Linked DNA regions of Homo sapiens: all the other regions are linked to region 1. Evidence: fine-mapped expression QTL. A gene starts in region 1. Each other region holds a variant in brackets. All regions are shown on one strand. Distances are from middle to middle. Region 1 holds the start of COPRS (coordinator of PRMT5 and differentiation stimulator). Region 2 has its middle 46 kb from the start of COPRS. Region 3 has its middle 26 kb from the start of COPRS. Region 4 overlaps RHOT1 (ras homolog family member T1). Region 5 overlaps UTP6 (UTP6 small subunit processome component).

Region 1 (5,131 bases):
AAATGAGACAGAGGGACTATTCCTCTCCTCACATCCTTGGTCTCCCCAACTTCCGTCTCTGCCATCTACTTGCCTAGTCGATCCATAGCCTTCTCAGTCTCTCTCTCCTGACTGGAGTGGTCAGCTGTAGCAAAGCCAGCCTGCAGGAAGAAGAAATGATTACCAAGGACTTGGGTATCTGGGGTATGCCCAGTATTCAGCTATTGCATCTCAACCCCACCCACTCTTCCATACTCCCCTTGGTGATGCAGGGCTGGGACTCTGCCACCCACATTTCTACTTTGCCCTGTTAAACTGAGCAAGGCTGGAGGGAGATGGGCCTTGTTCCTTCCTATTCATGTAGGCATCACCTCATGACACTTCACCGTGGCAGCAGGAATGCCTTCCTATAGTGGCCACAGAATCCAGTATACAGTTCTGCGAACTCTTGCAGAGCCAGTCTTATCACTGCACCTTCTCTTTAGAGGTCTGGGTCTCAGGACTCTCCTCCAAGCTCAGAGACCCCCTACCATCAGCTGGGGCAGTGCCTTCTCCTTAAAGGTTGGAATTTCAGCTCTGCAGAGCCTTTTCCCTAAGCTTTTAAATTTTAATCAACTTCATCTCTTTGTTCCTTCAGCCATAGGTTGGTAGCTGTTCCCTGCGGTTGCCACCCCCAGGTACACGTTTTACCTTTTCAGTTACTTAACAACTTTATAGCTAGTAAACAACTCTATCAAATTCTCTGTTTCCTCACCAACACACTGAGGTGGGGGAAGCTTTATAATTCCTCTGCAATGCTGAGCACTGAAGGCAGTATTTCTAATCTAACTGAAAATCTTCCCGCACAGCCAACCAAATGCTTCTCTGCTCCCATCACTCAGAAGTTCCTGAAACCCTATGACCTCCAAGACCTCTTTCTAATGAATCACGAAATGTTCCCTGCCTGCATAAAAGACCTGATTTTGATCCCAGCTCTGCCATCCATTCAGAGTGTGACCTTGAACACATCACTTCAATTACTGTGCCTGAGTTTTCTTCTCCAGAAATTAGGGGTGACTGTTCTGACCCTGCAGGGGACTTATGATTAGACACCATTTATGAAAACACCTGGCATGTGGCAAGAATGTAACATTTCTTGAATTTAAATTCATCTTTTCTGCTACATCTAAACTGTACTCGGCACCTGCTCCAATCAGCATTCATTATCTAGTCATGTCTGGGTTTAATAATTCAGTTCCACTCCCTGTAGTTAGTGACAACCTCTGGTCACTGCCGCCCAAGGAGAAGTCAGACCTCTCACCTAAACCACTGCCACGGCCTCCTAACCACCTTCCCATCCAGCCATCTGGCCCAGCCTTACAGAATTAATCACTACTCTGCTCAAAACCTTCAACAGCCCTCCACTGAGAGAGCACAAAATTAGCCATGGCATTCGCACGTCCCCTCTTCTCCCACTCCCATCAACCTGTTGAGCATAGTTCTCTGCATGCTCTGAGACCCAACTCCAGGCCATGTGCCCTGCACTTTCTCATCTCCACGCCTCTGCAGACACCACCAGCCTCTCACCTTGATCCTTTCCTGCTATGCCCTGACAAAATTAGTCCCATTCTATTCTGCACTCCAAAGTAATTTTCTTTGTAAGTGTCGCTGCATTTTTCATATCTTACTTTGGCTAAGTACCATCTTTGAGGCATCATTCATCCAGTCGGTATGTCTATCTCCTGTGCCAGGCACTATGCTAGGCTGTGCAAACAGCCCTAACAGAGGGTTCCTACCTTCAAGCCGCTCAGCACCTAGCCGGTACAGACTGTAAACAAGGACAGGTAAGAACTGTAATAACGGTCTGTAACGTTCTCGGGAAAACCAGGAGCTGTCTAGCTTACATGAAAACAAGTTTCTGGAAACCCTGCGTCAAACAGGGCCTTTCTGGTTTCAGTAAGGAGAAGGGGGAGCGCGCATGTGACATCTGGGGCTCAGGGTTAGCTGGCATCCCCACCAACGGACAGAGGTCCACAGGTCTGTAAAGTCAAGTCCCTCTCCTCGCCGCCCTCACCTGGCCCTCGCCCAGGCTCCTGGCAGCGGGCCCCGGCTCTCGGTCACCAGCGTCACCTCCCATTTACCAAATCCGCAGCGGCGCCCAGCGGGCGGACAGCCGTCTCTGCTGACCCAGAGCGCCCACCCACGCCCTCGGCTTTCCCCGCCCCGCAGCCCCGCGGCCCCGCGGCCTGGCCGTTTTCAGCTCGAGCGCGAGCCCAAACAGCGCTCCGTGTCGCGGGGCGGCCCGAGGCCGGCCAGAGGCGCTTCCCCGGCCCCGCGGCCCCCGCCCAGCCCGGCCCCGCGACTTCCCGCCCCAGGCTGCGGCTGGCTGTTGCTCCTGGCCCCCACGCGGCGCTCACCTCCGGGCTGGGGGGCGCCCCCCGCGCGCTAGGCAGCGGCGGGCCCCGAGACGGCTCCGCGGCCCCCTGCGCCTGGGCCCCGGCGGCCTGAAGGTCCATGCCCTGCGGCCCGCGGCTGGTCGCCCTGGACGCCGTGGGCCACGTGACGCGCCGGCCCGGCTGCCCGCCCGAGGATCCGCCGCAGAAGCGCCAATCAGCCTGGGGAGGGGGTGGGTACCGGCCAAGAGGGCGGGGCGCGGGGGTGTCACGAGCAAGCGGGGGCGGGGCGGCGCAGGGGGCGGGGCGCGCGGCCTCGCGGAGCCCGCCCCTCCCTCCCAGCGCGAAATCTGAAACAATCTCGGAGACGGATTTTGGAAACTCCTCTCGGTGCATATCCTAAGGCTGCACGACTAGCTGCGTGTGAAACGCCAAGCGTACCCTACTCGGCCACTCGGGGTGTGCTCCAGCTTCAAAACCCCGCGTGGGTAAGACACATGAGCAACCCAGTGACCTCCACCTTGAGCTAATGATCGTCTTTGAAGTTAATCCATTAGAAACCAAGATAGATGATTAAGACACAAACTGCAATATGCAGTGGACACAGAATACAGGCCACGACGCTTACTCATAATAATCCTGAACATTCGGGATTCCTGTATTTCCATGCTCAACGCCTGATACCGACAACCTAATTATTTCCCATTTTGCCTCGAAAGGTGGCTTCTGGGGATAGGCAGGGCCTGAGCTGGGAACAGCCCAACTGGAAAGACAGCCTTCCCTGCCTTCCCCACAGTGCCTAACCTCTAATAACAAACCAGCTCAAGGTGTGCTAATCACGTCAACATCAGGACATGAGACCCTCTTCCTTCATCCCCCTCAAAGACTGTGTTGTTTGTACAACACAAAAGGCATTTGAAAAAATTTAGCATAAAACTGACACACAATATTCGATATTATTTTTGTTCTATATGTAGATGTTCCTACACAGGAGTCAGTATCCCCAAGGCTAACTGCCTCTAGGTCAGCAATGTCCAATAGAACGTTCTTTAATGGTGGAAGTGGAAATGAAAGTTCTACTATCTGTACTGTCCAATATAGTAACCATATACCTACTGAGCACTTGAAATGTGGCCAATGTGAATAAATTGAATAATTCTAATAAATTTAAATTGCTACATGTGCCTTGGAGCTACTGTTTCTAACAGTGCAACTCTAGGTGTACTAGCTAGATGTGTTTTCATAACCTGCAATATTGAGAATCAGATACAGGGATGTGATGACCCCAGGTGACCACCCTTATAGCCTTGTGTTAAGGAGACTACCACTATCCTCTTTGCTCCCTAATCTACATATCTCTTTCGTAAAATTAAAGTGCCAAATAAGATTAAGAATGTTAAACATCCCAGGACTTAAGGGACAGGAAAAAGAGGAATTTTTTTCTTATTTTAAAACAAATGACAAGAAAACAGGGGCTGGCCGCGGTGGCTCACTCCTGTAATTCCAGCACTTTGGGAGGCCGAGGCAGGCAGATCACTTGAGGTCAGTTCAAGGCTATCCTGGCCAACATGGTGAAACCCCATCTCTACTAAAAATACAAAAATTAGCCAGGCGTGGTGGCACACACCCATAATCCCAGCTACTCGGGAGGCTGAGGCAGGAGAATCACTTGAGCCCGGGAGGTGGAGGGTGCAGTGAGCAGAGATTGCCCCACAGCACTCCAGCCTGGGCGACAGAGTGAGACTTGGTCTAAAAAAAAAAAAAACCAGAAAGAAAAAGAAAACAGTACAAAAGCTTAAAATAAAAATGTTCTAAAGTAGACTCTAATACTCATAGAAATTTAATATATAATAAAGGTAACATCACAAATCAGCAGAGAGAAACATAACTGCCCAAATAGTGTTGGCAAAATTAACTGCTTGGGGAAAAAGAGTTGTTCTCAGCACCAGGAAGAGCTTCCAAAGCATTTTAAAAACAGACATCACACATACACACACAAAATACCTCTGGGCATCAAAAATCGCCACAAAAGGTGCCTATAATCCCAGCTACTTGGGAGGCTTTGGCAGGGAGAACTGTTTGAACCTAGGAGGCAGAGGTTGCAGTAAGACCACACCACTGCACTCCAGCCTGGACCACAGAGCAAGACTCTGTCTCAAAAAAAAAAAATCACCACAAACAAGGCTGGGGGTAAAATTATTTGCAACAAATGAGAAACAAGATATTAATATTCTGAATATGTTTTTAAAAACTCTGGCCAGGCACAATGGCTCATGCCTATAATACCAGCACTTTGGGAGGTTGAGGTAGGAGGATTGTTTGAGCCCAACTGTTTAAGAGACCAGCCCTGGCAACATAGCAAGACCAGTCTCTACAAAAAAAAATTTAAATTAACCAGGCATGGTGGTGTGCACCTGCAGTCCCAGCTACTCAAGAGGCTGAGGTGGGAGGATCTCTTGAGCCCAGAAGTTAAGGCTGTAGTGAGCCATGATCACACCACTGCACTCTAGCCTAGGTGACAAAGCAAGAACTTGTCCAATTTAAAAAAAAAAATTAACTCATAAATTAGTAAGAAAAAAAATTTTTAAATAGTCTAAGGATGTAAAAAGATGAGAAACATAAAATACACTAACTTCACTAATATCAAAGTATGGTAAAACAATGACATATCACATTTCACCTATAAAATGGTAAAAATAAAAGATATAATTACACCAGTACAGGTAAGGGTACTGACACTTTCATGTATTGCTTGAAAGAAGGAGCAAACCAGCAATACA
Region 2 (5,131 bases), 46 kb before region 1:
TTTTAATCTAAAATTATATTCCCCAACTTAGTAGCTCAACAAATTGCTTCCTAGAGAAAGAACATGGTCAAGGACCAAGCAGAGGCTTTGCGTTCAGACAGACCAGAGTTTGAACCCCAGCCCTATTACTGCAACCCTGCACACTGGGCAAGCCCTTACCCTCTCTCAGCCTCAATTCCTTCCTCTGGAAGGGAACTTATGTGTCTTCCTTCTTCACACTCCTTTATTAGAAGATGCAGTGTGGGTAAGCCCTCTCATTCCATTTTGTGCTGGGAGTTTCTAAAAATCAAATCTACATTCAGAAGACAGACAGTGGCCATAGCTGAAGAAATTCAAAATAATGACCTGGGAAAGTCCCCAAAATGAGTTCTAAAAAGCTCTTTGGCAGCAATTCCTCTTGCAGGCATATGCCCAAAATAATGGAAAGCAAGGACTCAAATATCTTTGTACGCCCATGTTCTTAGCAGCATTATTCCCAGTAGCCAAAAGGTAGAAACAATCCAAATGTTTATTGACAGATGAATGGATAAACAAAATATGATATGTACATACAGTAAAATCGTATTTGGCCTGAGAAAGGATGCATGTTGACACACACTAGAGCATAGATGGAGCTTGAGGACATTGCGCCAAGTGAAATGAGCCAGACAAAAAAGGACAAATGGTATGATTCCATTTACATGAGGAACAGCACATAGTCAAATTCATAGAGACAGAAAGTAGAATAGAGATTGCCAAGGACTGGGGGGAGGAGGAAAAGGGAAGTTAGTGTTGGATGGGTATCAAGTTTCAGTTTGGGATAAGAAAAGTTATGGAGATGAACAGTGGTGACGGTGGTACAACTATGCGAATGTACTTAATGCCACTCAACTGTACATTTTAAAATGATTAAGGCTGTGGTTCACGCCTATAATGCCAGCACTTTGGGAGGCCGAGGCGGGAGGATCACGAGGTCAAGAGATTGAGACCATCTTGGCCAACATGGTGAAACCCCGTCTCTACTAAAAATACAAAAATTAGCTGGGCGTGCTGGCGAGCGCCTGTAGTCCCAGCTACTCAGGAGGCTGAGGCAGGAGAATCGCTTGAACCCAGGAGGCAAGCTTGCAATGAGCTGAGATCTTGCCACTGCACTCCAGCCTGGTGACAGATTGAGACTGCATCTAAAAAAAAAAAAATTATTAAAATGGGCCGGGCATGGTGGTTCACGCCTGTAATCCCAGAAGTTTGGGAGGCCGAGGTGGGCAGATCACCTGAGGTCAAGAGTTCAAGATCAGCCTGGCTAACATGGTGAAACCCCGTTGCTACTAAAAATAGAAAAAAAATTAGCCAGACATGGTGGCGGGCGCCTGTAATCTCAGCCACTCGAGAGGCTGAGGCAAGAGAATCACTTGAACCTTGGAGGCAGAGGTTGCAGTGAGCTGGGATCATGCCACTGCACTCCAGTCTGAGCAACAGAGCAAGACTCTGTCTCAAAAAAAAAGGGGTGGGGGTTAAAATGGTACATTTTATGTTATGTATATTTTACCAAAAATTTTTAAATAATTTTTTAAAGCCTCCTTGCAATGCAGCATTATTATTAATATTATTATTATTGAGACAGTGTCTTTCTCTGTCACCCAGGCTGCAGTGCAGTGGCACAATCTCAACCCACTGCAGCCTCCACCTCCCCAGGCTCAAGTGAGCCTCCCACCTCAGCCTCCTGAGTAGCTGGGACTGCAGGCGCAAGCCACCACGTCTGGCTAATTTTTGTTGCTTTTCGGTTTTGGGAGGGGTGGGTTTTGGTAGAAGAACGGTTTCTCCATGTTGCCCAGGTTGGTCTCAAATTCCTGAGCTCAAGTGATCCTCCTGCCTTGGCCTCCTAAAGTGCTGGGATTACAGGCATAAACCACTGCACCTGGTCACAACACAATATTATTATTTGAAACACATGCAGGAAATAAAGCTGAGCTACAAAAGATGTTTCTCATATAGAGAAGCAACTTGTGAAATTCGTTGCATTTTTTATAAATTCAATTATAAAAATAAGAAAGTCATATGATTTGGCTCTGTGTCCCCACCCAAATCTCACCTTGAATTGTACTCCCATAATTCCCATGTGTTGTGGGAGGGACCCAGTGGGAGATAATTGAATCACGGAGGCAGTTTCTCCCATACAGTTCTTGTGGTAGTGAATAAGTCTCATGAGATCTGATGGTTTTAAAAAGGAGGCCAGGCACAGTGGCTCACACCTGTAATCCCACCACTTTGGGAGGCCAAGGCAGGTGGATCACCTGAGGTCAGGAGGTCAAGACCAGCCTGGCCAACATGGTGAAACCCCATCTCTACTAAAAATACAAAAATTACCTGGGCATGGTGGCACATGCCTATTATCCCAGCTACTTGGGAGGCTGAGGCAGGAGAATCACTCAAACCCAGGAGGTGGAGGTTGCAGTGAGCCAAGATTGTGCCACTGCACTCCAGCCTGGGTGACAGAGCAAGACTCCATCTCAAAAAAGACAAAAAAAAGGAATTTCCCTGCACAAGCTCTCTTCTCTTCTCTGCTGCCATGTGAGACGTGCCTTTCACCTTCCACCATCATTGTGAGGCTCCCCCAGCCAAGTGGAACTGTAAGTCCAATAAACTCTTTTGTAAGTTGCCCAGTCTCAGGTATGTCTTTATCAGCAGCATGAAAATGGACTCATACAAGTCACATGACAGAAAATTTTAAAAATTAATAAAGAA[C/G]CTTATACCTTCATTTCTTCCTTACAAGATGTTTTTAACCTACTTGTAATCATCACCTATAAACCCTACGCCTTCTGAAGACAAGTCCCCAAAATCCAGATGCCCCACTGGCAAGGCACAGGAGCAAAATGGACACTGTGATTCTTCTCCAGACATTCAGCTGTGCTTCCCCCAGGGTGGGAAGCCTCCAACACTCTTGTAGATGTGAAGGCAGGGCAGCCATGGCATGGTGGTGGTGGGAGAGGAGGCTTGGAAAAGAGAAAGCTAATGGCTGTCTATGTTTCCTCTATCCTGGTGTGGGGACATTGGTGCACCCATGCACACGTGCACAGTCCCTCCATGCTGAGGCTCTATTACCTCCCATGGCTCCTTCAGAATGGAGTCCACCAAGAAGAAGGAACTGGTTGTTGAGGCAGCCCCAGGCCCTTGGCCTGAGAAGCATCTGGCTGATCGCTGAGGCCCCCTGTGAGGAGCCCAGGACCAGGTCCCTGGGGGAAAATGAGGCAGAACTATGGCCTCTAGTTCAGTCTCACTCCCATCAGGATAGCAGAGGGCAAGTCTGGAACTGGGCACATTCAGGTTTGAGTCTTGGTACAGCCTTATGCAAGTGACTTCAGTTCTCTTGAGCCTCGGTTTCCCTAGCTTTACAATGGGAATTCTATTTCCTACCTCTTGATGGTATGACAAGGGCTGAGAGAAAAATCTATATGAAGTGCTAACCAGATGGAGTGTGTGCTCACTAGATGGAGGCTCCATCAGCTACAGCCCTCCTAAGGCTCCAGAAGCAACTTCATTGAACCAACCCATGAACAAATTCTGAGAACATTTCCACCATGAACCTGGTTGTGAACTCATTAGAAGAACTCACTGAAATGGGCAGGGTGTGGTGGCTTGCACCTGTAATCCCAGCAATTTGGGAGGCCGAGGCAGGCAGATCACTTGAGGTCAGGAGTTCAAGACCAGCCTGGCCAACATGGTGAAACCCCATCCCTACTAAAAATACAAAAATTAGCCGGGTTTTGTGGTGGGCACCTGTAATCCCAGCTACTCGGGAGGCTGAGGCAGGAGAATTCCTTGAACCTAGGAGGTGGAGGTTGCAGTGAGCAGTGATGGCACCACTGCACCCCAGCCTGGGCGACAGAGCAAGTCTCCATCTCAAAAACAAGAATAAAAGAAAAAGAACTTACTGAAATTATTTTAACATTATAAAGGAGGGTGGGTGCAGTGGCTCACACCTGTAATCCTAGCACTTTGGGAGGCCGAGGCAGGAGGATCACTTGAGCCCAAGAGTTCAAGACCAGCCTGGGCAACGTAGTGGGACACTGTACCTACAAAAAAAATAAAAAAATTAGCCAGCCATGGTGGCATGTACCTGTGGCCCCAGCTACAAAGCAGGCTGAGGCAGGAGAATCACCTGAGCCCAGGAGGTGGAGGCTGCAGTAAGCCATGTTCGTGCCACCGCACTCCAGCCTGGGTGACAGAGCAAGATCCTGTCTCAAAAAAAAAAAAAAAAAAAAATTTGCAAAGAAACACTTGAAAGACTTAATAAAATGTTTAAATATATATTTCCCCAAACTAGATTATCATCAATTTCTTAACAAATAAATTGATCTGGTTGGAAGAACAAATTCTGGAAATTGCTTCAGATGATCTCTTGAAACAAAATATATTGAACAGAAGTCACATGTATCAGTGTGATTAGAAATTTATTTATTTATTTATTTATTTATTTATTTAGAGACAGAGTCTCACTCTGTCACTCAAGCTAGAGTGCAGCGGCACAATCTCAGCTCACTGCAACCTCCGCCTCCTGGGTTCAAGTGATTCTCATGCCTCAGCCTCCCAAGTAGCTGGGATTACAGGCACGTACCACCATGCTCAGCTAATTGTTTGTATTTTTAGTGCAGACGGGAGTTTCACCATGTTGGCCAGGCTGGTTTCAAACTCCTGGCCTCAAGTGATCCGCCCACCTCCGCCTCCCAAAGTGCTGGGATTACAAGCATGAGCCCTCGTGCCCTGCCTAGAAATTTATTTTTAGTCTCTATGTAGACTGACACATAGACTCCAGAATGTCAGTGTCTTAACACAATAGAAATGTATTTCTCACTACTGTTAATTTCAGTGGCCCTGGTGGACAGGCAGCTTTTCTCCACGTGGGGTTTAAGGGACACAGGCTCCTTCCTGTGGCTCTACTGTCCCCTGGGGCCTCTTTATAGCCAATGTAAAGATAACAAACAAGTGGAAAAGCTTCATTATGTCTTAAAAGTTGACCTAAGAGTCACACATATCACTTCCACTCACATGTCATTGATGGTTCCTGAACTAGTCCTATTGCCACAGTAGGAGGCAAGACTAGGAGAAAATATTACAAAGCATATATCTGACAAAATTTTTATATCTAGGATATATA
Region 3 (5,131 bases), 26 kb before region 1:
AGAGGATGTGGAAGCTGGCTTTCTCCCTGAGGAAATGGACCAAAGCCAAGCGATCCTGAGCTTCAACTCTTAATCCCCCATAGAGTGCACGAAAGAGGAAACAAACCCCAGCCCATCAAGCTGGAGATGGAACAGGAGAGCCCGCCTATAAAGCTGGGCCACATCTCCAGTACAAATAAGGGCAGGCTAGAAATAGACACATGTCCCACAAAAGAGCAAGGAAAATGGCCCATGTCAAACTTTGAAAATATATGGAAAGAAAAACATGTTTACCCTTATGTAAACCACAAGCCAGCCCTTATGTTTAAATTCACAGATACAGGCAGAAACCCTCAAGCCAGCTGAGCAAGGCTTTACGGAGGCAAGGGAGTTAGCCATAAGACTATCTGTGGTTGAGCATTCCAGGCAGGCAGCAGCAAGAGCCACCACGAAGGCCAGAAGGCAGGGTCATGCCTGGCTCGCTCCAGCAACACGAAAAAGGGGTGGAGTGTGGAGAGCCAAGCAAAAAAGATGAAGTCACATAAGTAGCAGAAGACCCGGTTGTACAAGGCCTGGTGTGCCACCGTAAAAACATGGACTCCTCCTCGGAAATATGGAGCCACTGGGGGAGTTTGAGCAGGGGAAGAAGATCTAACAAAGAACTTTCACACTTCCTGTGGGAGTGCAAATTGGTACAATCTTATATAGCAAAACGATCACCCTGGCTTCTCTGCTAAGAATACATGAATGGAACAAAGACCAAATAGGAAGCTATTCCAGTAATCCAGGTGAAAATTAATAGTGGCTCTGGCAAGGATGGTAGGTAGCAAGAGAAGGATGAGATTGTATTGGGATGTGTTGAAAGGCAGAAACAAATCGATTCCTGACACTGGATTTAAGGTATGAAAAAAGGGGGGCCAGGCACGCTGGGCCACACCTGTAATCCCAGTGTGTCCAAAATTGGTTCCTTCTGGTGGGTTCTTGGTCTGGCTGACTTCAAGAATGAAGCCACAGACCCTCGCGGTGAGTGGCACAGTTCTTGATGTATCTGGAGTTTGTTCCTTCAGATGTGTCCCCAGTTTTTTCCTTCTGGTGGATTCGTGGTCTTGCTGACTTCAGGAATGAAGCCGCTGACCTTCGCAGTGAGTGTTACAGCTCTTAAAGGTGGCGTATCCAGAGTTGTTTGTTCCTCCGGATGGGTTCGTGGTCCCGCTGACTTCAGGAGTGAAGCACAGACCTACATAGTGAGTGTTACAGCTCTTAAAGGTGGCGCGTTTAGTGTCACAGCTCTTAAAGGTGGCATGTCTGGAGTTGTTTCTCCCAGTGGGTTCGTGGTCTCACTCACTTTAGGAGTGAAGCTGCAGACCTCCTCAGTGAGTGTTCCAGCTCATAAAAGTAGTGCGAAGCCAAAGCGTGAGCAACAGCAAGATTTTTTTTTTTTTTTTTTGAGACGGAGTCTCGCTCTGTGGTCCAGGCTGGAGTGCAGTGGAGGAATCTGGGCTCACTGCAAGCTCCGCCTCCTGGGTTCACGCCACTCTCCTGCCTCAGCCTTCTGAGTAGCTGGGACTACAGGTGCCCACCACCACACCCGGCTAATTCTTTTTTGTATTTTTAGTAGAGACAGAGTTTCACCTTGTTAGCCACCATGGTCTCCATCTCCCGACCTCATGATCTGCCTGTCTCGGCCTCCCAAAGTACTGAGATTACAGAGCAACAGCAAGATTTATTCCGAAGAGCAAAGGAACTAAGCCTTCACACCACATAAGAGGACCCACCGGGTTGCTGCTGGGGGTCTCTGGTGGCCAGCTTTTATTCCCTTATTTGGCCCCGCCCACATTCTGCTGATTGGTTCATTTTACAGAGCGCTGATTGGTCCATTTTACAGAGCGCTGATTGGCCCGTTTTTACAGAGTGCTGACTGGTGCATTTACAAACCTTTAGCTAGACACAGAGCTAACTGGTGTGTTTACGATCCTTTAGCTAGATATAAAAATTCTCCAATTCCCCCCACCTGATCCAGAAGCCCAGCTGGCTTCACCTCTCTCCAGCATTTTGGGAGGCCGAGGCAGGAGGATTGCCTGAGGTTGGCAGTTCAAGACCAGCCTGACCAACATGGAAAAACCCCATCTCTACTAAAAATACAAAATTAGGACGGGAGCAGTGGCTCACGCCTGTAATCCCAGCACTTTGGGAGGCTGAGGCAGGTGGATCACAAGGTCAGGAGATTGAGACCATCCTAGCTAACACAGGGAAACCCCCTCTCTACTAAAAATAC[C/CAAA]AAAAAAAAAAAATTAGCCGGGCGTGGTGGCACGCGCCTGTAGTCCCAGCTGTTCGGGAGGCTGGGGCAGGAGAATGGCATGAACCCGGCAGGCGGAGGTTGCAGTGAGCCGAGATCACACCACTGCACTCCAGCCTGGGCGACAGAGCAAGACTCCATCTCAAAAAAAAAAAAAATACAAAATTAGCCAGGCATGGTGGCACATGCCTGTAATCCCAGCTACTCAAGAGGCTGAAGCAGGAGAATCACTTTAACCCGGAAGGCAGAGGTTTCGGTTAGCCAAGATAATCATGCCATTGCACTCCAGCCTGGGCAACAGAGCAAGACTCCGTCTCAAAAAAAAAGAAAAGAAGGTACATTTTAGACTTGCTGAATTTGAGGGGTTTTTTTTGTTTTTTGTTTGTTTTTTGTTTTGTTTTGTTTTGAGACGGAGTATTACTCTGTTGCCCAGGCTGGAGTGCAGTGGCGCAATCTCGGCTCACTCACGGCAACCTCTGTCCCTCAGGTTCAAGCGATTCTCCTGCCTCAGCCTCCCGAGTAGTGGGATTGCAGGCACCTGCCACTGCACCTAGCTAATTTTTGTATTTTTAGTAGAGACGGGGTTTCACCATCTTGGCCAGGCTGGTCTTGAACTCCTGACTTCATGATCCACCCGCCTCGGCCTCCCAAAGTGCTGGGATTACAGGCGTAAGCCACCACGCCTGGCCAAATTTGAGCTATTAAACATTCAAGGCGAAATGCCAAGTCAGCAGTTAGATATATGGAATTGACTGGGCACAGTGGCATATGCCTGTAATCCCAGCATTTTAGGAGGCCAAGGCACGAGGATCATTCAAGCTCAGGAGTTCAAGACCAGTCGGGGCCATACAGCAAAACCCTGTCTCTACAAAAAAAATTCAAAAATTAGCTGGGCATGATGGCATGAGTCTAGTCCCTGTAGCTATTCAGAAGGCTGAGGTGGGAGGATTGTTTGAGCCTGAGAGGTCAAGGCTTCAGTGAGCTGTGATCATGCCACTGCACTCCAGCCTGGGTGACACACTGAAACCCAGTCTCAAAAAATAAAAATAAAAAAATATATATATGGAATTAAGGAGAGAATTCCAGGCTACAGATGTAAATTTGGGAAATGTCAGCATACGGATGGTATTTAAAGCCATGAGGCTGCAGGAGCTCACCAGCAGAGTGAATATAGAGAAGAGAGTTAAAGGCTGAGCCCTGAAGCACCGCCAACAGAGAGAGGTCAGAGAGAAGAGAAACCAGAAGAGGGGGTGAAGAGGGGAAGCCACTGTGGTTAAAGGAAAACCGAGAGAGTATGGGGCCCTGGAAGCCACACTGAGAGAACTGAGACAAGGAGGAGATATGCAAGGCTGTTCAGTGAGCGCAAGCTAAGAACCTAGGCTTTGCTGGGCACGCTGGCTTACAACTGTAATCCTCGCACTTTGGGAGGCCAAGGCGGGTGGATCACCTGAAGTCAGGAGTTCAAGACCAACCTGGCCAACATGGTGAAACCCTGTTTCTACTGAAAAAAAAAAAAAAAAAAGAGCCAGCCATGGTGGTGCGCGCCTGTGGTCTCAGCTATTCGGGAGGCTGAGGCAGGAGAATCACTTGGAACTGGGAGTTCAGTGAGCCCAGGAGCCCAGATGGCACCACTACACTCCAGCCTGAGCAACAGACTGAGACTCCGTCTCAAAAATAAAAAGAAAAGAGGCTTTATCTCTGAAACAGGACTGAGCATCATATTTAGCACACAGTAATAGACATCAAATATCCAGTCTTGCGGTGAGAAAAGCAGATGAAATCCCAATAGCAGGCTATCCTACAAAATACCTGACTAGCACTCCTCAAAACTGTCAAGGTGGTGGGTCAAACGAGACGATGACTGAGCACTGACCATTGGCAAGAGCAGTCTTGGTGGAATGGAAGAGGTGAGAGTCGGCCTCAAGTAAACTTAGAAAATTGCCAGCCATCAGATTTTTTAAAATTAAAAAAAAAAAAAAACTGAAATACTGTGTGTTGACAAAGATGTGGAGCAACTGGAACTTTCACACACTTTTTTTTTTTTTTTTGAGACAGAGTCTTGTTCTGTGGCCCAGGCTGGAGTGCAGTGGCACAATTTCAGCTCACTGCAACCTCTGCCTCCCAGGTTCAAGCAACTGTCATGCCTCAGCCTCCCGAGGAGCTAGGATTACAGGTGCCCACCACCATGCCTGGCTAATTTTTGTATTTTTAGTAGAGACAGGGTTTCACCATGTTGGCCAGGCTGGTCCTGAACTCCTAGCCTCAAGTGATCTGCCTGCCTCAGCCTCCCAAAGTGTTGGGATTACAGGCGTAAGCCACTGCACCCGGCCCACACACTTTTTTTTTTTTTGAGACAGAATCTTGCTCTGTCACCCAGGCTGGAGTGCAATGGTGCGATCTTGGCTCACTGCCATCTCTGCCTCCCAGGTACAAGCGATTCTCCTGCCCCAGCCTCCTGAGTAGCTGGGATTACAGGCGCCTGCCACCACGCCTGACTAATTTTTGTATTTTTAGTAGAGATGGGGTTTCACCATGTTGGCCAGGTTGGTCTCAAACTCCTGACCTCGTGATCCACCTGCCTCAGCCTCCCAAAGTGCTAGGATTACAGGCATGAGCCACCACACCCGGCTGCCCACACTCTTCTTATGGGAGTGAAAATCGGTTCAATCTTAAGAGAACCCTTTGGCAGTATCTACTAAAACTGAACATGTTTATAATCTATGACCCAGCAATTCCCTTCCTAGGTATATATCTAATAGCAATCCATACATATGTTCACCAGATAGTAGTGAACAAAAACATTCATAGCATTCTTCATAATAACCGCAAACTGGAAATTATCCATCAAAAATAGATTAG
Region 4 (5,000 bases), 310 kb after region 1:
GAGTCAGAAAATGAAAAGAGCATGTAAGAAAAATGGACCAGCATTTATATTGTTGGTAGATTAATGAGGAGAGAGACTGGAGAAAGGGATAGGAAATTTGGGACTGGGAGATTTTTCAATAAAAGTACCATAATTAGGGAAATAGGGGAACAGTGAGGGAAGGAATGAATGTTAAAAATTTCAAAGGAAAATTTGACAGATCTTGACTGCTAAATGCAGAAGAATGATGAATCGGAGATGGTACATTTTTAAAATTTTTCTTTTTATCCAGATATGTAAAAAGAATGTTAACCAAGGCTGGGTGTGGTGGCTCACGCCTGGTAATCCCAGCATTTTGGGAGGCCAAGGTGGGCAGATCACAAGGTCAAGAGTTCGAGACCAGCCTGGCCAATATGGTAAAATCCCGTCTCTACTAAAAATACAAAAATTAGCCAGCGTGATGGTGCGCACCTGTAATCCCAGCTACTTTGGAGGCTGAGGCAGGAGAATCACTATAATCTGGGAGGCAGAGGTTGCAGTGAGCTGAGATCGTGCCACTGCACTCCAGCTTGGGTGACAGAGCAAGACTCCATCTCAAAAAAAAAGAAAGGGAAAAAAAAAACAAAGAATGTTAACTATATTGGTGATAACTATCTAAGTCTGTTACAATGTAATGTAAAAGTAGAGAGGACCTAGTGGCCATGATCAGTGGTATCCCCAGGATGAAGAATAGTGCCTGGTGGCCAGGCGTGGTGGCTCACCCCTGTAATCCCAGCACTTTGGGAGGCCGAGGCAGGTGGATCACGAGGTCAAGAGATCGAGACCATCCTGGCCAACATGGTGAAACCCTGTCTCTAATAAAAATACAAAAATTAGCCAGACGTGGTGGTGTGCACCTGTAGTCCCAGCTACTAGGGAGGCTGAGGCAGGAGAATTGCTTGAATCCAGGAGGCGGAGGTTGCAGTGAACCAAGATCGCGCCACTGCGCGAAAAGAATAGTGCCTGGCTTATAGAATTGCTTAAAAAATATTTATCAAAGGATGAAAGAATGCATTTAACCTGTCAACTTTTGGGTAAATTTTAGTTGTCATCTTTAACATCCCAATTTTTTTCTTTTTTTAGACGGAGTGTCGCTCCGTCGCCAGGCTGGAGTGCAGTGGCGCCGTCTTGGCTCACTGCAGCCTCTGCCTCCCGGGTTCAAGCGATTCTTCTGCCTCAGCCTTCCAAGCAGCTGGGACTACAGGCGTGTGCCACCATGCTCAGCTAATTTTTGTATTTTTAGTAGAGACGGGGTTTCACCATGTTGACCAGGATGGTCTTGATCTCTTGACCTCATGATCCGCCCACCTCGGCCTCCCAAAGTGCTAGAATTACAGGCGTGAGCCACCGTGCCCAGACTAACATCCCAATTTTTAATACCAAAAATTACCTTAAAAATAATACTTACTGAGGCTGAATGTGGTGGCTTACACCTGTAGTCCCAGCACTTTGGGAGGCTGAGGCAGATGGATGTCGAGCCCAGGAATTCAAGACCAGCCTGGGCAACATAGTGAAACCCTGTCTCTACTAAAAATACAAAAAATTAGCCAGGTATATAGTAGTGCACACCTGTAGTCCCAGCTACCCAGGAGGCTGAGGTGGGAGGATCGTTGATCCTGGAAGGTCAAAACTTCAGTGGTCTGTGATGGCACCACTGCACTTCAGCCTGGGTGACAGAGTGATACCCTGTCTCAAAAATAAATAAGCTGGGTGTGGTGGCTCACACCTATAATCCCAGCACTTAGGGAGGCCAAGGCAGGTGGATCACTTCAGGCCAGGAGTTCAAGACCAGCCTGGCCAACATGGTGAAACTCCCTCTCTACTAACAACAACAACAGCAAAACAAAAAACAAAAAAACAAAACAAAACAAAAAAAACAGGGCCGGGCGTGGGCGTGGTGGCTTACGCCTGTAATCCCAGCACTTTGGGAGGCCAAGGCAGGCGGATCACAAGGTCAGATCGAGACCATCCTGGCTAACACGGTGAAACCCCATCTCTACTAAAAATACAAAAAATTAGCTGGGCACGGTGGCAGGTGCCTGTAGTCCCAGCTACTTGGGAGGCTGAGGCAGGAGAATGGCGTAAACCCAAGAGGCAGAGCTTGCAATAAGCCGAAATCGCGCCACTGCACTCCAGCCTGGGCGACAGAGCAAGACTCCGTCTCAAAAAAAAAAAAAAAAAAAAAAAAAACAATACAAAAATTAGCCAGGCATGGTGGCACATGCCTGTAATCCCAGCTACTCAAGAGACTGAGGCACAAGAATGGCTTGAACCTGGGAGGTGGAAGTTGCAGTGAACCAAGATCGTGCCACTGCACTCCAGCCTGAGTGATCGAGAGAGACCCTGTCTCAAAAAAAAAAAAAGTTACTGATCTTTTCTAGTTAAAAAATTTTTGTGTTTATTTTCCAAGATAACCACTTTAGTATAATATATTCATCCAGTGGTTTTTTCTATGCACATACATATTTATCTTTAAAATGGG[A/T]TCATATTGCACATGTTGACTTATACCTGCATAAATATCATTTTTAGAAGTAAAATGGAACTTGAACCTCCAAATAATGACAAACCATAAAATAATAGGATAATAGAGGAATCTGTTAGTCTATACTCATATATAAATAAGTAAACAGGCATACCTCAGAGAAACTGTGAGTTTGGTTCTACACTACCACAGTAAAGTGGCTCACAAATTTTTTTGTTTTCCCAGTGCATATAAAAGTTATGTTTATAGGCTAGGTGTGGTGGTGCATGCCTGTAATCCCAGCATTTTGGGATGCCAAGATGGGCGGATCTCCTGAGACCAGGAGTTTGAGACCTGCATGGCCAACAAGGCGAAACCCCATCTCTACTAAAAATACAAAAAAATGTAGCCAGGCATGGTGGCACATGCTTGGAATCTCAGCCACTCGAGTGGCTGAGACATGAAAATCGCTTGAACCTGGGTGGCAGAGGTTGCAGTGAGCCAAGATTGTGCCACTGCACTCCAGCTTGGGTGACACAGCGAGACTCTATCTCAAAAAAAAAAAAAAAAAGTTATGTTCATACTATACTGTAGTCTGTTAAGTGTGTAATGTAATATCTAAAAAATGTACATACCTTAATTTAAAAATACTTTATTGTCAAAAAATGCTAATGATCATCTGAGCCTTCAGTGAGTTGTAACCTTTTTGCTGGTGGAGAGTCTTGCCTCAGGGTTGATGGCTGCTGACTGATTAGGGTGGTGATTCCTGAAGGCTGGGGTGGCTGTGGCAATTTCTTAAAATAAGACAACTATGACATTTGCTGCATCGATTGACTCTTCCTTTCACTAAAGATTTCTCTGTAGCATGTGATGCCATTTAATAGCATTTTACCCACAGTGGAACTTCTTTCAGAATTGGAGTCAATCCTCTCAAACCCTACTGCTGCTTTATCAACTAAGTTTATGTAATATTCCAGGTCCTTTGTTGTCATTTCAATATTGCTCACAGCATCTTCACCAGTAGATTCTGTCTCAAGAAACCACATTCTTTGCTCATCCATAATAAACTCTTCATCTGTTCAAGTTTTATTATGAGATTGCAGCAATTTAGTCACATTTTTAGGCTTCACTTCTAATTCTAGCTCTTTTCTTGCTATTTCCACCATATCTGCAATTCCTTCATTGAGGCTTGAATCCCTCAAAGTCATGTGAGGGTTGGAACCAACTTCTTCCAAACTCCTGATAATGTTACTTTGATCTCCTGTGAATCACAAATGTTCTTGATGGCATCTAGAATGGTGAATTATTTCCAGAAGGTTTTTAGTTTACTTTGCCCACATCCATCAGAGGAATCACTATCTATGGCAGCTATATATAGGCTTACACAATGTAAATAGTAAGCCTAAATAATAAGGCTTGAAAGTTATAATTACTCCTTGAACCATGGACTGCAGACTGGATGTCATGTTAGCAGGCACGAAAATAATCTCCTTGTACGTCTCCATCTGAGCTCTTGGGTGACCAGGTGTATTGTCAGTGAGCAGTAATATTTTGAAAGGAATCTTTTTTTTTTTTGAGGAGTAGGTCTCAACAGTAGCCTTAAAATATTCAATAAACCATTCTGTAAACAAATGTGCTGTCATCCAGGCTTTGTTATTCCATTTATAGAGCACAGGCAGAATAGATTGAGCATAATTTTTTTTTTTTTTTTGAGACGGAGTCTCGCTCTGTCGCCCAGGCTAGAGTGCAGTAGTGCAATCTTGGCTCACTGCAAGCTCCGCCTCCCGGGTTCACACCATTCTCCTGCCTCAGCCTCCCGAGTAGCTGGGACTACAGGCACCCACCACAATGCCCGGTTAATTTTTGTATTTTTAGTGGAGCCTCCCAAGTAGCCGGGATTACAGGCGTGAGCCACCATGCCCGGCCAGATTGAGCATAATTTTTAAGGGCCCTAGGATTTTCAGACTGGCAAATGACCACTGGCTTCCACTTAAAGGCAGCAACCTGCATTAGCCCCTAACAAGAGTCAGCCTATCCTTTTAAGCATTGAAACCAGGCATTGATATCTGCTCTCTAGCTATCGATGGCATCTTCTTCTGATACAAGGCTGTTTCATCTACATCGAAAATCTTGGTTGGGTCGTATAATACCAGCAACTTGGGAGACCAAGACAGGAGGATTGCTTGAGGCCAGGAGTTTAAGATCATCTTGGGCAACATGGTGAGACCCTGTCCGTACAAAGAATTAAAAAATTCACTGGATGTGGTGGCGTGGCCTGTGATACTAGCTACTCAGGAGGCTAAGGCAGGAGGATTGCTTGAGCCCAGGAGTTTGAGGCTACAGTGAGCTATGATCATCCCACTATGCTCTAGCCTAGGTGACAGAGACCCCCATCTCTAAGGAAAAAAAGAAAAGGAAACATTTGTTTACAGAATGGCTTATTGAATATTTTAAGGCTACTGTTGAGACCTACTCCTCAAAAAAAAAAAAGATTCCTTTCAAAATATTACTGCTCACTGAC
Region 5 (5,131 bases), 36 kb after region 1:
CCGAGATCGGGCCACTGCACTCCAGCCTGGGCAACATAGGGAAGCTCCAACTCAAAAAAACAAACAAAAAAAATTAGCCAGGTGTGGTGGTATGTGCCTGTAATCCCAGCTACTAGGGAGGCTGAGGCAGAAGAATCACTTGAACCTAGGAGGCGAAGGTTGCAGTGAGCTGCCGAGATTGTGTGCCACTGCACTCTAACCTGGGTGACAGAGCAAGACTCCACCTCAAAAAAAAAAAAAAAAAAAAGCCAGGCACAATGGCTCAGGCCTGTAATCCCAGCACTTTTGGAGGCTGAGGCAGGTGGATCACCTGAGGTCAGGAGTTTGAGACCAGCCTGGCCAAGATGGTGAAACCCTGTCTACTAAAAATACAAAAATTAGCCAGGCGCGGTGGTGCGTGCCTGAAGTCCCAGGTACTGGGGAGGCTGAGGCAGGAAAATTGCTTCAATCTGGGAGGCAGAGGTTGCAGTGAGCCAAGATCACACCACTGCACTCTAGCCTGGGCAACAGAGCAAAACTCCATCCCCCACCAAAAAAAAAAAAAAAAAAAAAGAAGCAGATTTCAGAAAATCCAGTCACCTCTCATCCTATCTGGCTCTTCCTCACAAAGGCCTCCGATCTCTTAACTATGATAATTCAACCTTTCCCCCAACTCCCACTCACAATGCTCCAAAAAAACTTTGTTATCTATCCAGTTGGTTTAATGCAGTTCTTAAAGAATCTCAATCTGGGGTAGCAATATAAAATTTGTCATTACCAAGAATCCAAAATACTTCTCATATAATATACCCAATCCCAAACACTCCCGTAATCCCAGCACTTTGGGAGGCTGAGGTGGGCAGATCACTTGAGCCCAGGAGTTCGAGACCAGCCTAAAAAACATGACGAAACCCTATGTCTACCAAAAATACAAAAATTAGCCAGGCACGGTGGCATGCGCCTGTGATCCCAGCTACTGGGGAGGCTGAGGTGGGAGAATCATTTGAGCCTGGGAGGCAGAGGTTACAGTGAACCGAGATCACCCTACTGTACTCTAGTCTGGGCAACACAGTGAGACCTTATCTCAAAAAAAAAAAAAAAAGAAAAAAAAAAAAATCAAGTTTCTGAGGTATTGCCCCTACATAACCATTTATTTTCTAGCTCTAAGTCTTCAGTGTACTTACAAATATATACAAATATCTCCCAAATTTCCAATCCTTAGTAATGTATCAAATACACTGTTTTCAGCACTGTCCTCATAGAATAACTATAAGGTAATAAGATCAATTTTCTTACTGGTTTGTTAAGTGGCTCAAAAAATGTTTTGAGTAATGATACCATCATTAGAGTAAGTATAAAGATACCCAAGATAAAAATAGAAAACTGCATTTGAATCCCTAATACAATATGTATAATACTTATCTTCACATCTCATAAAGTTAAGGATGCCTTGATCACTCACTTTCCATTTTGCTGAGGCACGCTGGAAAACACCTTGTACCCGGTGTACAATAGAATTCTCAATCTCATCCTTCTTAAATGAATATCCAATGCGCTAAAGGGGGACATAAAAAAACAGAGCCTCAACTTAATCATATTTGTCCAAAACAGCATTCCTACTTGACCACTTAATGGTACTGATGAAGCAAACAAATAATTACAAATATCCATTATAGGCATATCACCACAGTTTTATCAACACTGTCTCCCAAACACAAGTCCTAACTATACAGCCATACTGCTTAGTTCTGTATTTTTCTCCAACTTCTAGAAAATCTTCTACTTACTGTTCTTCTTCTCTGGATCAGCTCCAAAAGATTAATTTCATACTATGAAAGAAAAACATACAAAAAAATGAGAAGCTAGAAAATCTAAAACCTTTTAAATACTGGAAATTTAGTTAAAGTCATAAAACAAAAATCGAGAATATAAAATAAAAAATAATGTGCTATCACATAATTTACAATAAATGTCTAGAACTCACTTAAAATTCACTTAGCTATAAAACTTAAACAGAATTAACAAGCTTATAATTACATGCTTCACTTAAAAATTATTCCATGAAATATTTCAAGCATATAAAACACCCCATGCAGCTACAATGCAGCTACACCAAACCTACATTGCACTACATTTGCTTCAAATCTTTTTTAGAAATAAAACAGTTCGTATAAAAATGAAGCTACCTATGTACCTATCTCTGATTCTACTCTTCTCCCTCTCCAGAGGCAGCAATTACCTTGACTTTGTTATCATTCCCAAACATGACTTTGGACTTTATTATAATGATGTCTTGAATGCCTTTAAATTTTACATAAATGGTATCATGCTACATCCATCAATCCATAGGTGTTTTGTTTTGTTTTTTTGAGACGGGGTCTCCCTCTGTCGCCCAGGCTAGAGTGCAGTGGCATAATCTCGGCTCACTGCAACCTCTGCCTCCTGGCTTTAAGAGATTCTCCTGCCTCAGCCTCCCGAGTAGCTTGGATTACAGGCGCCTGCCACCATGCCCGGCTAATTTTTGTATTTTTAGTAGAGATGGGGTTTCACCATGTTGGCTAGGCTGGTCTTGAACTCCCGACCTCGAGTGATCCACCCACCTTGGCCTCCCAAAGTGCTGGGATTATAGGCATGAGCCACCGTGCCCGGCCCATCAATCCATATTTCTACTCAACATTATCCCTTTAGCTATATCCCTATTCACCGAGGCTGGTGGTGTGTGCCTGTAATCCCAGCTACTTGGGAGGCTGATCAGGAGGTAGAGGTTACAGTCAGCCGAGATCATGTCACTGCACTCCAGCCTGGGTGACGGAGCGAGACTCCATCTCAAAAAAGAAAAAAAAAAAAAAGTTTGCTCTTATAATGAATATAAAGCAGTCCTACACCTGGTTTTTTTTTATTGTTTGTTTTTTTGAGATGGAGTCTCGCTCTGTCGCCCAGGCTGAAGTGCAGTGGCGCAACCTAGGCTCACTGCAACCTCCGCCTCCCGGATTCAAGCAGTTTTCCTGCCTCAGCCTCCCCAGTAGCTGGGATTACAGGTACGTGCTACCGTGCCTGGCTAATTTTTGTATTTTTAGTAGAGATGGGGTTCCACCATGTTGACCAGGCTGATCTCCAACTCCCAACCTCAAGTAATCCACCCGCCTCAGCCTCCCAAAGTGCTAGGATTACAGGCATGAGCTACCGCGCTCGGCCCCTACAC[C/T]TTGTTTTAATCTTTATTTAACTAATTACTGATAAGGCTGATGTCTTTTCATAAGTTTAACTACAAGTGATGTTTCCCCTTTGTGACTTTCACGTTCACATGATTTGCCCATTTTTCTTTTTAGTTTTCATTTTCTTCTCGATTTACAGTTCTTTATATATGTGTATATGTAGTTCTAATTATGTGTTGTAAATATTTTCTCACATTTTGTGGCTTGTATTTTCACATTATTTGTAGTGTCTTTTTTGCACAGAAAAAAATTTTTTTTTTTTTTGAGACAGGGTCTCTATCACCCAGACTGAAGTGCAATGGCGCCATCATGGCTCACTACAGCTTCCACCTCCCAGGTTCAACTGATCCTCCCACCTCAACCTCCAGAGTAGCTGGGACTACAGGTGTGCACCACCATGCCCAGCTAATTTTTGTATTTTTTGTAGAGATGGGGTTTGCCATGTTGCCTAGGCTGGTCTTGAACTCCTGGGCTCAAGCGATCTGCCTGTCTCACACGTGAGCCGCCACGCCCCTCCAGAAATTTGTATTTTGAACACAATCAAATAAATCAGTCTTTTCTCTCATGGTTTGTGCTTTCACAGTCTAATTTAGCTTTAAGAAATCTTTTGGCTGGGCACACTGGCTCAAGTCTGTAATTCCCAAAACTCTGGTACGGCAAGGCAGGAGGATCACTTGAGCCCAGGAGTTCAAGACCAGCCTGGGCAACATAAGGAGACCCTATCTCTACAAAAAATAAGAAAATTAGCCAGCCATCTGGCACAAGCCTGTAGTCCTACCTACTTGGGAGGCTGAGGCAGGAGGATCATCTGAGCCTAGAAGTTCGAGGCTGCAATGAGTGCTCGCACCATTGCACTCCAGCCTGGGCAAGAGTGAGTGTATTATTTGGAAAAAAAAAAATCTATTTTTGACATAATATGGTCTTGGCTCATTTTGAGTGAGCAATCTACTCATAGGACCTCTTCCAAAAACAATAGCTTAGCCAAGGTTCATATATTGTTTGTTCGGCTGTCTTTTGTCTTTTTAAATCTAAGCTCAAAACTTCTAGTCTTTTTTTTTTTTTTTTTTTTTGAGATGGAGTTTCGCTCTTGTCTCCCAGGCTGGGAGTGCAATGGCACAATCTTGGCTCACTGCAACCTCCACCTCCTGGGTTCAAGCAATTCTCCTGCCTCAGCCCCTGAGTAGCTAGGATTACAGGCACCCAACACCACACCCGGCTAATTTTTGTATTTTTAGTAGAGATGGGGGTTTCACCATGTTGGCCAGGCTGGTCTCGAACTCCTGACCACAGGTGATCTGCCTGCCTCAGCCTCCCAAAGTGCTGGTATTACAGCATGAGCCACCATGCCCAACCAAAACTTCTAGTCTTATAAACATGTGATCTTGTTATTGGTTCTTTCTGAATCCTGATTCCGTCATCCAACATATTAGCTATTCTCCCCCACTGGAAAATTGGTCTGACATAATTTTTCTTTATTCAAACCTTCCATGCATTTACAAGATGAAAAAATCTTGCAGTACACCTCTTTCCAAGTGGACAGACAATAGATAAACAAGCAGTAACTTTTCAATTCTCTACACTCATCACATTCACTCTCCTCTATCTTGCTCACCAAGAGGCAAATCTCTTGCTGAAGTCCTGATACACACTATGTCTCTGACAATCTCTGATCTACAAACCCAGTAGAAAAAAAAAAGAAAGAAAACGACAAGAGAGAAAGAGGAGGGGAAAAGTAAGTTCAGTTTGGCCAGGACTACAGTCTTAGTGGAGTAATGCTACTCCCAATGCTACTCCTGTTCAGAAATATCTATCTAATGAACGTTTCTGGAATTCTTTTAATTTTTTTAAAAAACTGATGTTGGCCGGGCGTGGTGGCTCATGCCTGTAATTCCAGCACTTTGGGAGGCCGAGGCGGGTGGATCACCAGGTCAGGAGTTCAA

Evidence for each region. PIP is the estimated chance that this variant, and not a neighbour inherited with it, causes the effect.
Region 2: its variant is the best candidate, but not a certain one, in a credible set for the expression of COPRS in thyroid (GTEx, PIP 0.68).
Region 3: its variant is the best candidate, but not a certain one, in a credible set for the expression of COPRS in whole blood (INTERVAL, PIP 0.60).
Region 4: its variant is the best candidate, but not a certain one, in a credible set for the expression of COPRS in whole blood (INTERVAL, PIP 0.88).
Region 5: its variant is the best candidate, but not a certain one, in a credible set for the expression of COPRS in whole blood (INTERVAL, PIP 0.60).

Annotation. Positions count from the first base shown.
Region 1 is chr17:31,856,726-31,861,856 of GRCh38, forward strand. It overlaps COPRS (coordinator of PRMT5 and differentiation stimulator), which reads right to left and starts at 2,519. Exons shown (of 4, transcript NM_018405.4): 1 at 2,376-2,519; 2 at 74-140. The coding sequence starts at 2,474. UTP6 (UTP6 small subunit processome component) reads right to left here. Exons shown (of 19, transcript NM_018428.3): 19 at 4,179-5,131. RefSeq lists an enhancer at 1,506-2,180 and a silencer at 2,240-2,669.
Region 2 is chr17:31,810,612-31,815,742 of GRCh38, forward strand. No RefSeq gene overlaps it. Among named protein-coding and RNA genes, the nearest start is that of COPRS, 46 kb to the right of the region's middle. The variant C/G (reference allele first, on the strand shown) is at 2,722.
Region 3 is chr17:31,831,098-31,836,228 of GRCh38, forward strand. No RefSeq gene overlaps it. Among named protein-coding and RNA genes, the nearest start is that of COPRS, 26 kb to the right of the region's middle. The variant C/CAAA (reference allele first, on the strand shown) is at 2,255.
Region 4 is chr17:32,163,155-32,168,154 of GRCh38, forward strand. All of the region lies in intron 1 of RHOT1 (ras homolog family member T1), which reads left to right. Among named protein-coding and RNA genes, the nearest start is that of RHOT1, 23 kb to the left of the region's middle. The variant A/T (reference allele first, on the strand shown) is at 2,501.
Region 5 is chr17:31,893,204-31,898,334 of GRCh38, forward strand. UTP6 (UTP6 small subunit processome component) reads right to left here. Exons shown (of 19, transcript NM_018428.3): 3 at 1,767-1,808; 4 at 1,442-1,534. Among named protein-coding and RNA genes, the nearest start is that of UTP6, 5.9 kb to the right of the region's middle. The variant C/T (reference allele first, on the strand shown) is at 3,182.